2 separate regions of the Homo sapiens genome follow, and region 2 is linked to region 1. The links come from fine-mapping of genetic effects on gene expression. A gene starts in region 1. The other region holds a variant in brackets. All regions are shown on one strand. Distances are between the middles of the regions. Region 1 holds the start of TTC7B (tetratricopeptide repeat domain 7B). Region 2 overlaps TTC7B (tetratricopeptide repeat domain 7B).

Evidence for each region. PIP is the estimated chance that this variant, and not a neighbour inherited with it, causes the effect.
Region 2: its variant is fine-mapped to the expression of TTC7B in testis (GTEx, PIP 0.94).

Annotation. Positions count from the first base shown.
Region 1 is chr14:90,815,482-90,818,378 of GRCh38, forward strand. TTC7B (tetratricopeptide repeat domain 7B) reads right to left here and starts at 949. Exons shown (of 20, transcript NM_001010854.2): 1 at 694-949. The coding sequence starts at 814. RefSeq lists a silencer at 943-1,122.
Region 2 is chr14:90,534,465-90,537,361 of GRCh38, forward strand. It overlaps TTC7B (tetratricopeptide repeat domain 7B), which reads right to left. Exons shown (of 20, transcript NM_001010854.2): 20 at 1-2,897. Among named protein-coding and RNA genes, the nearest start is that of LINC00642, 81 kb to the left of the region's middle. RefSeq lists an enhancer at 1-72. The variant A/T (reference allele first, on the strand shown) is at 1,498.

The DNA.
Region 1 (2,897 bases):
CACATTCCCATCTCGCTCCACAATATTCTCCCTCCAGGTCCCCCTGACTCTATTTCTCCTCTATTCCCAACCCTGACCTCTCTAGGTCGGCAGCCTTGATGCTACTTCTCCGAACGCCAGGACGCACATCCCAGCCTGCTTTCTACCACCACCCCACACACCTCGAGTCTGCGCTTCCACCCAGAACCCCTTAAACACCATATGTTTACAAACCAGATTCCCCAGGGGTCTATGTACAACACCCCATTCTCAAGACCCCATAAACACATCCTGATTCCCTGAGCACACCATACACACACTGTGGACTTCACCCATGTCCTGAGGGACCCCCTCACCCCATCACCTCCAACTTCTTGGAAGCCCCAGGCCGGCCCCTGACCTCCTGTGGTCCCAGTGGAGCAGCGGACTCGCTGAGACCCCCGGACACCCCAGACTCCGCAGAAGCCCGCCCTGCACGCTTGAACCCCAGGCGCCGGGACAGCCCCTGGCGCCCCCCCGGGCCCCCACACCGCGTGACTCCGGGGCACCCGGGCTCCCCCAGGCCCCGGTCCCGCGCACATCCCCTGGGCCGCAGCTCCCTCGCGGCCCGGCCGCGCCCCTGCCCGCGCCCCGCGCCCGGCCGCGCCTCGGGGGCCCGTTCCCGCGGAGGCCGCGGCGCCCCCCGCAGCCCAGGCCGGCGCGCCCGGAGCGTACCGTTGGCGATGAGCTTGGCCGACAGCTGCTTGACGAGCTCAGGGATCCGCTCCCACTGGCACTCGGAGCGGCAGCGCTCGATCTCCGTCTCCAGCCGCGAGCCTGCCTTCTTGGTCGCCATCGCGGCCTGGCCGGGCCCGGCCGCCCGCCCCGCAGGCCCCACCGCCGCCGCCGCGGCGCCCCCTCGCCGCCTCCCGCCGCCGCCGCGGGCTCGGGCTCCGGCTCCCGGCTCCGCGGCGTAACGGGAGCGCCGGCTGGGGAAGGGGCGGGGAGGCGGGCGGCGGCGGCGGGCGCGGCGGGGCCCCGGGCGCCGCGAGGAGCGGCCCCTGCCGGCCAGGGCCGGAGCCGCAGCACTGACCGGGGCCGGAGCCAGGGCTGGGGCAGGGGCGGGGGCTAGGGCGGGAGACAGGGGCCCGAGGGAGGAAAGGCGGGGTGGGCATGGAGGACAGGGAGAGGGACTGGGGGTGTCTGGGGCGGGGTGAAGACCGAGGGGAAGTGGGGATGGGGGTGGGGGAGCGGGGTAGGAGAGAGATCTGACCAAGGGCGGGTGAGGGGTCTGGTGGGGTAGGGGTCTGGGCAGGATGAAGGGGAGGGAGAGGATCGGGAGGGAGCTAGCGACAGCCTGGGAGCGGGTTGGATCCCCAGGAGTAGGGCCAAGAAAGGGCAGTGACCCTGGGGAAGGTCACCGCCCGGTGGGACCAGTGAGCCAGGTGTGAGGGGTGGGGGGAGGCCTGCCCGAGTTTGTCCTGCCATCTCAGGTGGCCAGCGGTTCCCTGGGGCCCGGTTGGCCTGTGCCCCTTAGCAGATGCCCCTCTGCCCCGCAGCCTTAGCCCCTACCCAGCCAGAGGTGGACGGAGACTCCTCCATCCCAGGCAAGGCACAGCACCTGCCAGGGGTGCCCTAGATGGCTGAGCGGAGCCAGGCAGGGGCTGCCACTCTCACACGCCAGCTCTCGGACCCCCTGAGGGGAAGGCACAGTCACTGGTGGGGCCTCCTGTCTTGGCCACCTAGACTGAGACCTAGGGAGGTGTCCCTCTGTGTTCTCTCAGTGAATCAACTGTCTAGTGATCACCTACTATGTGCTGGGCGCTGCTTTAGGTGCCAGAGATAGAATTGTGAGCTAAAAAAACAAAATTCCTGGCTTGAGAGAGCTTACATTCCAGTTTGGGGGAAAAATAAGCAAAATAAAATAGTAAACTAGACTGTAAAAATGGCTATTTGAAGAAACAGGGAAGGGTTCAGTGAGGAACATAAAGAGTTGGGACAGGCGGGTGGCTCATGCCTGTAATCCCAGCTACTCAGGAGGCTGAGGCAGGATGATTGCTTGAGCCCAGAAGGTGGAGGCTGCAGTGAGCAGTGAACGCACTTCAGCCTGAGCAAGTGTTGCCATTTAAAATGGAGCAGTCAGGGATGGCCTCACGGAGGTGGCATTAGACTTGAAGAAACTAAGGGGGAGCCATGAGGATATCTCTGGGGGAGGAGTATCCCAGGCAGAGAACACCACAAGTGCGAAGGCTCTGGGGTTAGAGCACACTGGGTGGGATGGAGAAATGGCAGAGGCCAGAGGGGCTGGGTGGAGCGAAGGAGAGGGGCCGAGGCAGGAGATGAACTCTGAGAGGTTGGGGGGAGTTCTGTGTAGTGCCTGGTGGGCCATTATAAGACCTTGGCTTTTGGCTGGGCACGGTGGCTCACGCCTGTAATCCCAGCACTTTGGGAGGCCGAGGTGGGCGGATCACGAGGTCAGAAGATCGAGACCGTCCTAGCTAACATGGTGAAACCCGTCTCTACTAAAAATATTTTTAAAAATTAGCCGGGCGTGGTGGCAGGCGCCTGTAGTCCCAGCTGCTGGGGAGGCTGAGGCAGGAGAATGGTGTGAACCCGGGAGGCGGAGTTTGCAGTGAGCTGAGATGGCAGCACTGCACTCCAGCCTGGGCAACAGAGAGAGACTCCGTCTCAAAAAAAAAAAAAAAAACTTTGACTTTTACTCTGGTGACATGGAGCAGCCCTGCAGGGCTTTTCACGGAAGAGTGGCATGATCAGACCTACACTTTGGACTATCACTGTGACTGCAGTGTTGAGAATACTGCCAGGGAAATAGCTGTGGTGGTGGCAGTGTTGGATTCTGGGTCCTGCATTTGAGAGTGAAGCGGTCAGTCTGGAAGGTTCCGTAGCCCGCCCGCAGTCACAAGGAGGCACTGAGGGGT
Region 2 (2,897 bases), 280 kb before region 1:
AAGCAGACGCTAGGGGAGGGATGGGAGCAGCCACCTGGTACAGTGCCCAAGACACAGTTTACAGAACTTCAATATGAGTGGTGTCCCCTCACTGGGCAATGCCCACCCTGTCGGCCTTGAGAGGTGGTGGGGGAGGAGCAGGAATGAGAAGGTGGCGATATGGAGAGAGGGGGCCGAGTGGCAGGGGCCGAGCGCTGGGAGGGTATGGGGGCATTGGAGGGAGACAGTGGCCAGAGTGGCTGACCCTGCCCTGAAATTCCTTCAGTAGGGCCGGGTCACCCATTCCAGCCTGGAGCCGGCTGTGCTGCAGGGACCTGGGCTGGGGCTGGGGCAGCAGGTGACAGGCTGGTGACAGGCCCAGCACGGACAGGGCAGACGTGGAGAACTCCAAGGATGATGGGGAGGGTGCCTGCAAAGGGGGGACTTCCTGCAGGCAGAGAGTCTGGGCCCGCAATGATGACTGTGTGGCCGCCGGGGAGATGCGTGGGGCCATCTGGAGGAGTCTGGGTTGCTCCATGTGATCACAGACACGCCCACCTGTGCACGAGCATGCACCTCCCCCAGGCCATGACCACAGGTAGGGGGCATGGAGGATAACGGGAGGCCTTGGTTCCCTCCTTTCCCCACCGAGGGAGGTCCCCACGCAGCCCTGAGGGTGAGCAGAGCCCTGGCCACAGCCCAGGGCCCAGGACCTGGAAGGAGGCAGAGAGACAGACAGACGAGCCCATGGATCCCAAATGGGGCTGGGGATGGGAAGTGGCCTGCCCCGGCCACACCTGCCCAGGCCCCCAGCCTGGCTCTGTCCTGAGATCCTCTTGGCTGAGTGGGGCGGCTCCTTCAAAGAAGGGCCTCCTCCCTCCTCTGCCTCCTCCTTCCCTTCCTGGTCCATTCGCCACCCCACCCTGCCCGAAGTTGGCTCCCTGCTCACTGAGGAGTGGGTGCCCCGTCCCCAGGGCTCCCTGGCTTGGGGGTACCCAGGCCTCTGCCTCCCTGCTGCTGCTGCTCTGGGGAACCACCAGGCCCCCAGCCAAGGCAGCCCCCCTCAGCTTCCCTCTCTCCTTCCTCACGCCTGCCCTGCTGGAAACACAAGGTGCTCAGCGAGGCCGCCTTCAACACTCAACACGGCCCCTTCCCCACCGGACTCCTAACCTGTGTTCTCAGCTCCCCTCTGCAGCTACGCTCTTGAAAGAGACTTCACCTTTTCCTCCCCCTTGAGCCCACTCCAACCTGGCTTGACCCCACCTTAGTCAGCTTGGGCTGCCGTAAGAAAACCGCCACAGACAGGTGGCTTCAACAATGAACTTAATTTCTCACAGTCCTGGAGGTTCAAAGAACAAAGCAAAGGTTCCAGCCCATCTGGGTTCCTGTGAGGCTCCCTCCTGGCTTGCGGGTGGCCGCCTTCTCCGTGTGTCCTGGCGTGGCTGAGCGTGAGCTCACTTGCACTTTAGAGTTTCTTCTGGTGAGGACGCCAATCCTACTGGGCCAGGGCCCCTCCTG[A/T]TGACCTCACTTCACCTGAATTACTTCCTTAAGGGGCCTATCTCCAAATATAGTCACACAGGGGCGGGGGCTCCACCCTATGAATCTGGGGGAGCAAAACTGCATCCCCAGCATGGCTCTGGTCAAGGTCACTGCCAACCTGCACACCACCAGGCCCACGGTCAGCTCTCAGGCCACCCTGACGGGGTCTCCAGGCATTGAGAGAGCCCACCCACCTCCTCCAGGAAGCTCACCCTGCCTGCTCTCCGCCTCCCTTGCAGCTGCTCCTGCGCCTTCTTTCCTGATCTCTTCATTTCCCAGCCTGTAAACCCCGCCAGCCCCGGAGCTCAGCCCTGACCTCTTCCTCTTTGTCTATGCTTGTCCCGAAGTGGCCCCGTCAGGCCCATGGCTCCCAGCCCCGCATCCCTGACACCTCCCACACTCTCGCCTCATCTTGGGCTCTCGCCTGGGCTCCTGCCCAGCCAGCTGCCTCCCCCTCAGAGGCTCCACAGGCATTTTGTATTCAACCTGCCTGAAAGCAGACTCCTGCCTTCTCCTCTCCTCCCCAACCTATTCTTCCTGTTTCCTGGCCATCATCGCCATCCTTCCAGTAGCTCAGGACAAGACCCTCACCCTCATCCCTGGCGTCTCCCCTCCCTCACACCCAGCTCCATGTGTGAGCAACCCTCTTGGCTCTGTCTTCAGAATCTTCACAGTCCAGTGCCTCTCGCCACTTCCTCCACGCCCCTTGGTCTAAGCACCATGGTCGCTGTGTGACAGCAGGAGCCTGACAGCCTCCCAGCTCCCACGCTGCGGCCTGCAGAATAACGTGCTCCCCCTGCCCCTCAAAGACGTCCACATCCCGAGCCCTGGAACCTGTGACTATGTTGCCTTCCATGACAGATGGAGCGATGCAGATGTGATTGAACGAAGGCTCTCGAGGTGGGGCAATGGCCCTGGACTATCCAGGGGGCCCAGAGCAACCAGCAGAGTCCTTAGAGGGAGGCAGGAGGTCAAAGGCAGAAAGGTGACGCAGTGACGGAGCAGAGGAAGGAAAGGTGACGTGAGGTGGCCACGAGCCAAGGCCGCAGGAAGCCTCTAGCCGCTGGAGAAGACGGGGACACCCGTCCTCCTCCAGAGCCTGGGGAAGGAGCACAGCCCCACTGAAAGCTTGATTTGACTTCTGACCTCCAAAACAAAGAGAATAAATTTGTGTTAAGACGCTAAGTTTGCGGTCATTTAAAATTTTTAATTTATTTTATTTGTAGAGATAGGGTCTTGCTCTCTCATGCAGGCTGGACTGCGGTGGCGTGATCACTCACTGCAGCCTCAACCACCTGGGCTCAAGCAATCAGCCCATCTCAGCCTCCCAAGCAGCTGGGACTACAGGTGCACGCCACCAAACCTGGCTATTTTTTTTT